Linked DNA regions of Homo sapiens: region 2 is linked to region 1. The links come from fine-mapping of genetic effects on gene expression. A gene starts in region 1. The other region holds a variant in brackets. All regions are shown on one strand. Distances are from middle to middle.

Region 1 (4,223 bases):
CACCACCTGGATAAACTCTACAAAATACTATATAAAAGGAAGTCAGTTATTTTATCTCTTACCTATTCACCAACCACTTATTGAGTACATAAGTAATGAACTCTGACAGGCCCTAGGGTAGAAGTATAGAGCTCAGAGTCTACTGGAGAGAATAAACAAATTATCACTACATTGACTTGATAGAGGAATGCAAAATGTACTAACTGCACTCAGCATAGGGATCAGATCAGGGGCACAGGAGGGAGAAATTCTCCTAGAGATGACAAATCTGAGTCTTGAAGGACACGTGAGTTAAACAGACTTGCTGGAAGCACTGGGGGAAGCACAGGGAAGGGTAGGGAGCCGTGTTGGAGGAAAGTGCTCTGTGGATATGGGAGCCAGCATGTTCTGGAAGCTGCCGTCAGATATGACTGAAATAGAACACATTTATGCGGTGGGAGATGAGATCAGAGAGGGAGGCTGTTTGCCATGCTAGAAAATTTTCCTGCAGAAGAGCTGACTGGAGAGAAGAGGGACTAAGGGGGTGGGGGAATTAGATCTGAAGCCATGGCAAGATTCCAGGGGAGAAATGAAATTATATTAGCTAAGGCGCTAAGGATGGGGACTGATGTGAGAAAGATGTAGGTGTTGGAATCTACAACTTGTTCACTTGAATGTAAGGAATCAAAAGTGAGGGAATGGGAAGGAAGGACCTTTTCTTGCAGGGAATTCCAGGTCTATTCAAAGGAAAACCTCCATGGAAGAATGAAGAGGTGGCCATCAGGAGGCTAACGCCTGCTCTGTAGAGTGTGACTCTACAGACCACTGGGGACACTTGAGATTTGGTGGCGAGGCAGGTATGGAATAAACATGTTTTTTAAAAATGTGTAATTATGTTAAGGTAAATTCGGGAAAAATAACTAGCCTATAATAACCTATAATTTCTCATATGCTGCCAATTTAAAGAAAAATATTAAATAGTAGTGTAAGTGGGAAACAGAGGAAATCCAAGCAACAGCATAGATGGCCTCACCAGGAAGTGAACAGGCAGGATGTTAATCAGAAGACAGACTACAGTCAGGTATCCAGACGCAGGGGGCCCCATTAAAACCTGCACACTGAATTCTGCAAATTACAAGGAAAACTGTACCCTTACTGAGGCTGTGCTGAGCCAACTCTGAAAAGTAACAATGCCTAGTCTCAAACAGACCGTTGTTAAAAGTGCTGAGCGAGGGTAAATACACTGGTCACGCACTAACTTTTGATGTTAGTTACTTTCACTGCACCTGCCCTGGCCCTACAACCAGTCCGCCAACTTCCTGAAGTCAGAAGATCATTTTGCATTTTCTCCTACATTTATAGAGGTGACTCTCAACAAACTTGGCTGCGCATTAGAATCACCTGGGACGTTTCTTAAATTCCTGAAGCCCAGGCCTCATCCCAAACCAATTAAATCAGAATCTCCATCGGCGGAAGCCGAGCATTAGGATTTTCTTAAAAGCTCCCCAGAAAATTCCGATGTCCAGCCGACTAAAACACTGAAAGAACCTGATAACGATTTCTTTTCCTTTCTTCCATTTGCCCCTGCAGCAGTTTTTCCTTCTGCCTAACTGCTTCTCCTGCTCTAGACCCACGTGGATTCCTAAGTATCCTTCAACACCGTCGCTTCAACTCGCGCTGTCGTTATACTAGGAAGGCAGGCCTATGGTTCACTCTGCTAGTGGACACGTGGAGTGTGCAGAGCGGACAGGCAGCTCTCCGACTCTGAAGGAATCGAGGGCAAAACGGGACTCGTGAGAACAGACAGTTCCCCGTCGTGGGGCTGCCCGGGCTCACCTTCTGGTCTGAACTCGGCCCTGCCTGGCGGTACACCCCGGAGCCGTAGACGAAAGCCAGACTCAGCTCCTCGGGGAAGTGAGACAGGATCTTGCGGAAGGTCACCCACGAGCTCTGCAGCGTCTGCAGCGCCATGGGGTCGAGGCTAACAGGGGACACTCAGCGCAGCAGGGCGAGGACAACCGGGCGGGGAACAGACACCGGGTAGGCGGTTTAGGGTGGGAAATGGAAGTCGGAGACTGGATCGAGGGACACAAGGCTGAGTGTGGGGTGGGACTGCAAGCACACGCAAGGATTGGGGCGTTGGGCCACGAAGAGCAGCGGCGAGAAGACGCAGCCCAGATAGGCTCGGGTGGGCGGCGGTCGCACAGGCAGAGCTTCCGTCCCTTGCTACGCCCCACGCACGCACAGGCGCTTCCAAGACGCAAGAGGCGGTGCTCGCCTTAGTGTGGGGAACGCGAGGCTTTGCATTGTCCCCTCGTGGTCGGAGGAGTGCCCTACAGGCTGGCGGCTAGGTTGCGACTTGGACAAATCGGCGGAGGCGAGCGTCACCCGACTCCGCGGGCCCTGAGCCTTGATAGCCTCTGTACTTCTCTCTTCAAACTACGGTTTAAAGAATGACTATAAAATCGGGAGCGTATTGAAGGTTTTTAAGTGAGGCGACACTCACATAATATGGAACTAGCCGTTCTGAAATGGACAGTGTAGTAGCATGTAGTGCCTTCACAATATTGTGCCCCCATCATCGCTCTAGTTCCAAAATTGCAGATTTCGAAGATTTGGAAAAACACAAAATTAAAATGATGCCCAATCCCGCCATGTAGAGAATACCACCGTCAAGATTTGACGGAGACTTCTTCACGCTAAAGCCCTTTTCAAATACAAGGGTGGATATGGGAGTGCACAGACGTTCTCTGATACTTGCATTTAATTTCAAGGGTGGATCACAGTTTTTGCCCCCTTGCCTTGTGGAATGGTCTCACAAAGGGTGCTTCAAATGCAGTTTCTGGAGGAAACAGGACCCTAGGAGTAGAAAAATCTTACAGCTCTCCTCTTTGTATAACTGGAGAAACTTGCTGAAGATTACCATTCAGGAGGTGGTTTGACTTCCAGGACAGAAACTTTTTCAACTACCCTCTCCTTCCTCCCCAAAATACACTACCTCTCAAAAATAATAGAAATAGTAATAGCTAACATTCAGGTAATGTTGACACATTTTCACATGCACTTCTCACTGAGCACCCTCTAGTGCCCTGTGGCAGGAGGGCCTTGGTTTTACTGATGGCCAAGCTAAGGCTTAGAGAGGTAAAGCCAGGTGATAGGATCACATCAGCCTGTGGCAAAACTAGAGCTAAACCCAGGTCTGGCTCCAACTCTGGGATTTTTTCGGAAATTCTGCTCTGTCCTTGAAGGGTTTTGAGCAAGGACTTATGTAATTCACATGTTAGCCTGAATTGTGGGGGACTGATTAGACAGTTGTTATCATAGTTCCCCCATGAACTGGAAACGGCTAGGCCAAGGTCTTAGGAGCAGGGATGGGATTAAATCAATTGGAAAAATGATTACTTGCACTCACACTCTGGGCCTGCACTGAGATGAAGAGATCTGAGCTGCCTGCTGCCCTGCAGGAGCTAGGGGTCTGTAGAGGAGAGGAGACAGAACTGCAAATCAGAGTAGAATTTGGGTAATGCAGCCAGGTACCCAGCACAGTGCCGGAATGTAATGTCCCTCCAATGGGAACGTCAGTCAGTTCTGGGTGTTGGGGAAAGGGACCAGAAGAGGTTTCACAATGATGGCATTTTGAGCCAGGCCTGGAAGCTGGGTAGGAGTTTATCAGGTAGAAGATAGATGGGAAAATTCAACCAAGAAAGAATTGAAAGGACTCGGTGACAATAATACTAATAATAGGTGTCATTATTAAGCACTTAGTATGCCCAGGCACTTTTTAGACTTCTTTGGGGCTTTTCTGTTTTTGTTTTTTTTTTGAGACCGAGTCTTGCTCTGTTGCCCAGGCTGGAGTGCAGTGGCACGATCTCAGCTCACTGTGACCTCTGCCTCCTGGGTTCAAGCAAGCATGCCTGGCTAATTGTTGTATTTTTAGTAGAGATGGGGTTTCACTGTGTTGGCCAGGCTGGTCTCGAAATCCTGACCTCTAGTGATTTGCCCACCTCAGCCTCCCAAAGTGCTGGAATTACAGGCGTGAGCCACTGCACCCAGGCTTTTTATACTTGTTTCTTTTCATCACTCCAGAGATCCTATGAGGCAGGTTCTCTAAGATGATGATATTTTTCATACGAGGAAACAGAGGTCCTAAGAGGAGCAGTAAATGTTCCAAAGTCACACAGGAAAGTGGTGAAGTCGGGGTTTGAACCTAGGGCTACCTACCTCTAAAGGCCAAGGTCTTTACC
Region 2 (4,518 bases), 38 kb before region 1:
AAAGGGCAATGAATTCCCGGTAAAACAGATAAAACAGATAAAAACAGACTCACATCAAAGCACATCACTGAGAGAATTCAGAGCACTGGGGAAAAATAAAGACCTAACATGCTTCCAGAAATAACATACACAAAGGATTAAGAATCAGATTGGCTTTAGACATAGACAACAATCCTAGAAGTAAAAGATAAATGCAGCAATGATCTCAAAATTTTAAAGGAAAGTGATTTCTAATCAATACCCAGCCTAAGTATTAACTATGGGTGAAGACAGACAAAAAAGACTTTCAGACATACGTGGTCTCCAAATGTGCCTTCCATGTTCCCCTTCTCAGGAAATTACTGGAAAATGTGCTTCACCAAAATGAGAGTGTGCACCAAGCAAGTGAAAGACATGAGATACAGTAAATGGGGGACCCCCTAGAGGGGACAGCGAAGACACTCTCCATGAGAGAAGAACATTATGCAGGGAAGGAAAGGTGTACTCTGTGGCTCACCATACCATCAAACTGAAAACTAATTAGCCAAAACCACCAGACAACTATATTAGGAGGACAGAGGGATGGGAGGGTGCGTACATTTGATGAGGGTGGGTGCCAGAGTTGACTTCTAACCTCCCATAGAGAGAAGTCAATAGATGATACCTAAAGTTGAAACGTAGAGAAGGAGCAACGAAAACTTACCATTTAGAGAAATGGCAGTAACAACAAAAATAACCCACTAAGACAGATGGAAGCAGTTGTCTCAGAGAAGGGGAAGAGGAGGGGGAGCACAGATGCTGCTGTTTTTGCAATCCTATGCATCTGTAACTTTGATAAATAAAACAATATGAGGGAAAAACCCTGCACACAGGAAGTGTCTCAGAAAATTCAGAAGGGCAGTAAAGCTTCCAACAGCACTGCCAATGGTCTGACATTGTTCGACCACCAGGTTCTGCTGCTGTTATGCCTGTTTGTACCTTACTGCAATATCCCAGTTTATGGCCATCAAAGCTCAGCATTTCACAAGCACCTAAAAGATACAAAGCTTTACACTGTAACCAAGAGTGTGGAAGCCACTCAGTCAGCAGGTATGTTACACACGGATTTCCAAAGCTCTTACCAGCAGTAAAAATGCCTTTCGTGCTCTGTCTTATACTAGACGGTCTCACGATTGCTGAAAGCCCTGCGAGAAAAAAACCAAAAAGGAGACCAAAAAAACCCAAAACAGATGTTAGTCATCTTAACAGTTTTAAAACTTGAAACTAAATATTCTTTCTAGTCAGCCAATCAAACCACCAAATCTATCTCTGTCCTGCTGTCACAGTGACAATGAAAAGGGCAGTGGGATTGAGGGCCAGGAGACCAGAGCAGCCAGCCGTGGCGCCACCCGGCTGTGTGAGTCCAAGCCGATGACCGAACAGCTCTGTGCCTCTTCCCCTTAAAACAAGGGGATGGGTTAGCTGACCCTCAAAGGGCATTTTATGACTTAAATCTGCTTGAGATTTCTGGTTCTCAATTCCATAACATGAAAAGATAAAAACCAAATGATTACATCTACGAGAAAAACTTTCATTCTGAAAACACACATACGGATTCCACAGTGAGGAACAAGTTTCACTCACCTCAAAGAGACGGCCCAGATCACACTGTTGCCAGGATCATGTTCAAACAAACAACAGTGTGCCTCGTACAGAGCTATCTTCAGGATGGGGAGCTGGTGACCTAAACACACACTCTGCAAACCTAGTGCAGGCCCAGGAGGAGAGTGGGCGTGGAGCGCCTGCTGCAGCTCATCCACTGCAGTGCGATGGTCTTTGCAAAGCATTACTGGAAATTCTATCTGGCACGCGGAGGAGCTCAGTAAATATTTACTGAATGAAAACAGGAGAATGCACTCAATTGACAGAGGGACTCATTCTCAATTTCATAAATATTTCTTGATTGACTGATCTCATAAATTACCTTTAGCACCTTAAAGGGAAGTTAGTCTCTGAAGATAAGGTTCAGGCTCTTTTTTTTGTTTGTTTTTTAAGAGATACGGGCTGCTCTATCACCAAGCCTGGAGTGTAGTGGTGCGATCCTAGCTCATTGCAGCCTCCAACTGCTCAAGCGATCCTCCCACCTCAGACTCCCAAGTTAGCTGAGATTATAGGCATGTGCCACCATGCCCAGCTACTTTT[G/T]TAATTTTTGCAGAGACAGGGTCTTGCTCTGTTGCCCAAGCTGGTCTCAAACTCCTGGCCTCAAGTGATTCTCCCTCCTGGACTTCCTAAAGTGTTGGGAGTACAGGCGTGAGCCACTGCACCTGGCCTGGGTTCAGAGTTTTGGATAAACATCAGGGCAGTGCTGGGGAAAATGCTGTGGAACGTGGGCCATGTCTGAGGGAATGTACTCAACAATGTATGAGACACATCAAATGGAGTTGATTGAGGAAAGCTGTGTTCTCGATGTTATAAAAGCACAAAAAAATGCCACCAATCTCTTTTCTCAGACCACCACAAAACACAGACACATCTTTTAAATAAATTCTAGAAGTTGTGCTCTAGGAACCAAAAGAAACATTGTTTCTCCCTTTGACAGTGATTTAGGATCCAGGAATTTAAAAACAGAAGTATTTTCACCATCTTACTTCAAACAAATAAAAATGCAGATTTAGAAAACCCTCAAATTTTTAGTGCTTTCTTCTTCTGAGAGGCAATCTCTCTATCTCGCTAAACAAAAAGGAAGAAATAATACATTCCAATCACAAACAAAGTCTGCTTTTCCCCATGGCTGGCATTTCCTCAACATCAAATTCATAAACGTACCTAGTCGCACCACATCTCCACAGTCGGGATCATGAGCCACTTGGAATAAAGTTTCTTCCACATCTCTGTTTTTTCCAGGAGGGTCCATAATATGATTTATCTGTTGCTGTAAGGTTTTGGGCAATGTCATCAGCTGAGTGAACTGTCCTTCTGGGCTTTTATCTATCTGAAGGGAGGAAAAAAAAGACGACGTCTATGGAAGTGCTTTAAATCCTACAAATACTCCAAAACTCAGGGCTTCTCTTTAAAAATCACACAAACATATATGCACCCACACCCCTGGCGAGGCAGCAAGCTAAGGAAACTCTCTTTTTCTGAAACTGAATGGGTAAGTGTTCAGGAGTCTAAGTCCCTTCAAAAAGGACAATTCTTGTCCTATAATATTCCATTTCTACCTGAGAAAAGAATAGAAGCCACTCTCAAGGATCAATTTCTGACTTTTGGTTTTAAAATTTATATTTGTCTTAAATCCAGCAGTCAAAGGAAGTGGTGCTGCAGTTGACACTCGTGGAGGCCGCGTCAAATCCAGGCACTGAGATGACCCCTCCCATTTCAAACACAGGGAGACTGGCGTGCCCTGATCACATCACCAATGAGAGTAAGTGGGATCTGAATTGTGTCTCCTGCCTGTAGGGCCTTTTAGTATGCTGTATTTCACAAACTGTAGGAATACACTGATGACAGAAACTAATCTTACTTACTTTTAATCCCCAGCACACAGTAGGTACTCAAAAAACAATAAGGAAATGAGTAACTGAATCAATACAACTTAGTTGTCCTAAAGCTACTATGCCAGCGGCTTCGGTTCCCAAAGTATTCTAAAACATACTAAGGTGCTGAAGATAAATATATAAATAAAACATGTAAAACTATGTGTCAGACTTTACTCAGAAACCCTTGAATCAAAAGTTAGCCACAGAGCTGAGGCCAGACCTAGCTTTCCTAACTCCAAGTTTCATACACTGTGCCTCGTGGAATGAATTTTTAAAAATCTTGTAAACATTGATTTCCTGCCAAGTGCAGAACCAGTAACACTGCCCTCAACAGCCCATCACATTATTTCCCAAGGAAGAATCTGTCTTGTATCCTTTTAACAAATATTTAGGTTTTAACTTCAACTAAGAGAAGAGTAAGAAAAAATCAGATCAATGTATTACATTTTAGGCTTAGAGTTTACAGATAGGACGAACTTTCTTAATAATTAGAATCCACTCATTCTACCATTTTTTAAATTGAATAAATATTTATTAAGTACATACCAAATGGGCCAGGAGCACAGGTTCACACCTGTAATCCCAACAGTTTGGGAGGCTGAGGCAGGAGAATTGCTTGAGCACAAAAATTCAACATCAGCCCTAGCAAAAGAGTGAGATATCCGGCTCTACGAAAAAAAAAAAGAAAACAAAAAAAAGCCAGACATGGTGGTGCAAGCCTACAGTTCTGTCTACTTGGGAGGCTGAGGTGGGAGGATCACTTGAGCCTGGGAAGTTGAGGCTACGATGAGTGGTGATTGTGCCACTGCACTACAGCCTGGGTGACAAGACCAAGATGGTATCAAAAAAAACAAAAAAGTATATACCAAATACCTGAATTTTCTAGTTTTGTCTATAAACTCTATGAAGAGAAGGAGAAAAATGTTATTATTTAATGGCTCCATAAAGCTAGAGGGGTAAATATTTAGGTTTTTATCTAAATATTTGATATTTATCACTAGGATGGTTCTAAATTCACAGG

Evidence for each region.
Region 2: its variant is fine-mapped to the expression of TAMM41 in lung (TOPMed, PIP above 0.99). The same link has a PIP of 0.9 or more in whole blood.

What each region holds. Positions count from the first base shown.
Region 1 is chr3:11,844,687-11,848,909 of GRCh38, forward strand. It overlaps TAMM41 (TAM41 mitochondrial translocator assembly and maintenance homolog), which reads right to left and starts at 2,199. Exons shown (of 8, transcript NM_001284401.2): 1 at 1,816-2,199. The coding sequence starts at 1,950.
Region 2 is chr3:11,806,733-11,811,250 of GRCh38, forward strand. It overlaps TAMM41 (TAM41 mitochondrial translocator assembly and maintenance homolog), which reads right to left. Exons shown (of 8, transcript NM_001284401.2): 6 at 2,785-2,950; 7 at 1,101-1,163. Among named protein-coding and RNA genes, the nearest start is that of TAMM41, 38 kb to the right of the region's middle. The variant G/T (reference allele first, on the strand shown) is at 2,161.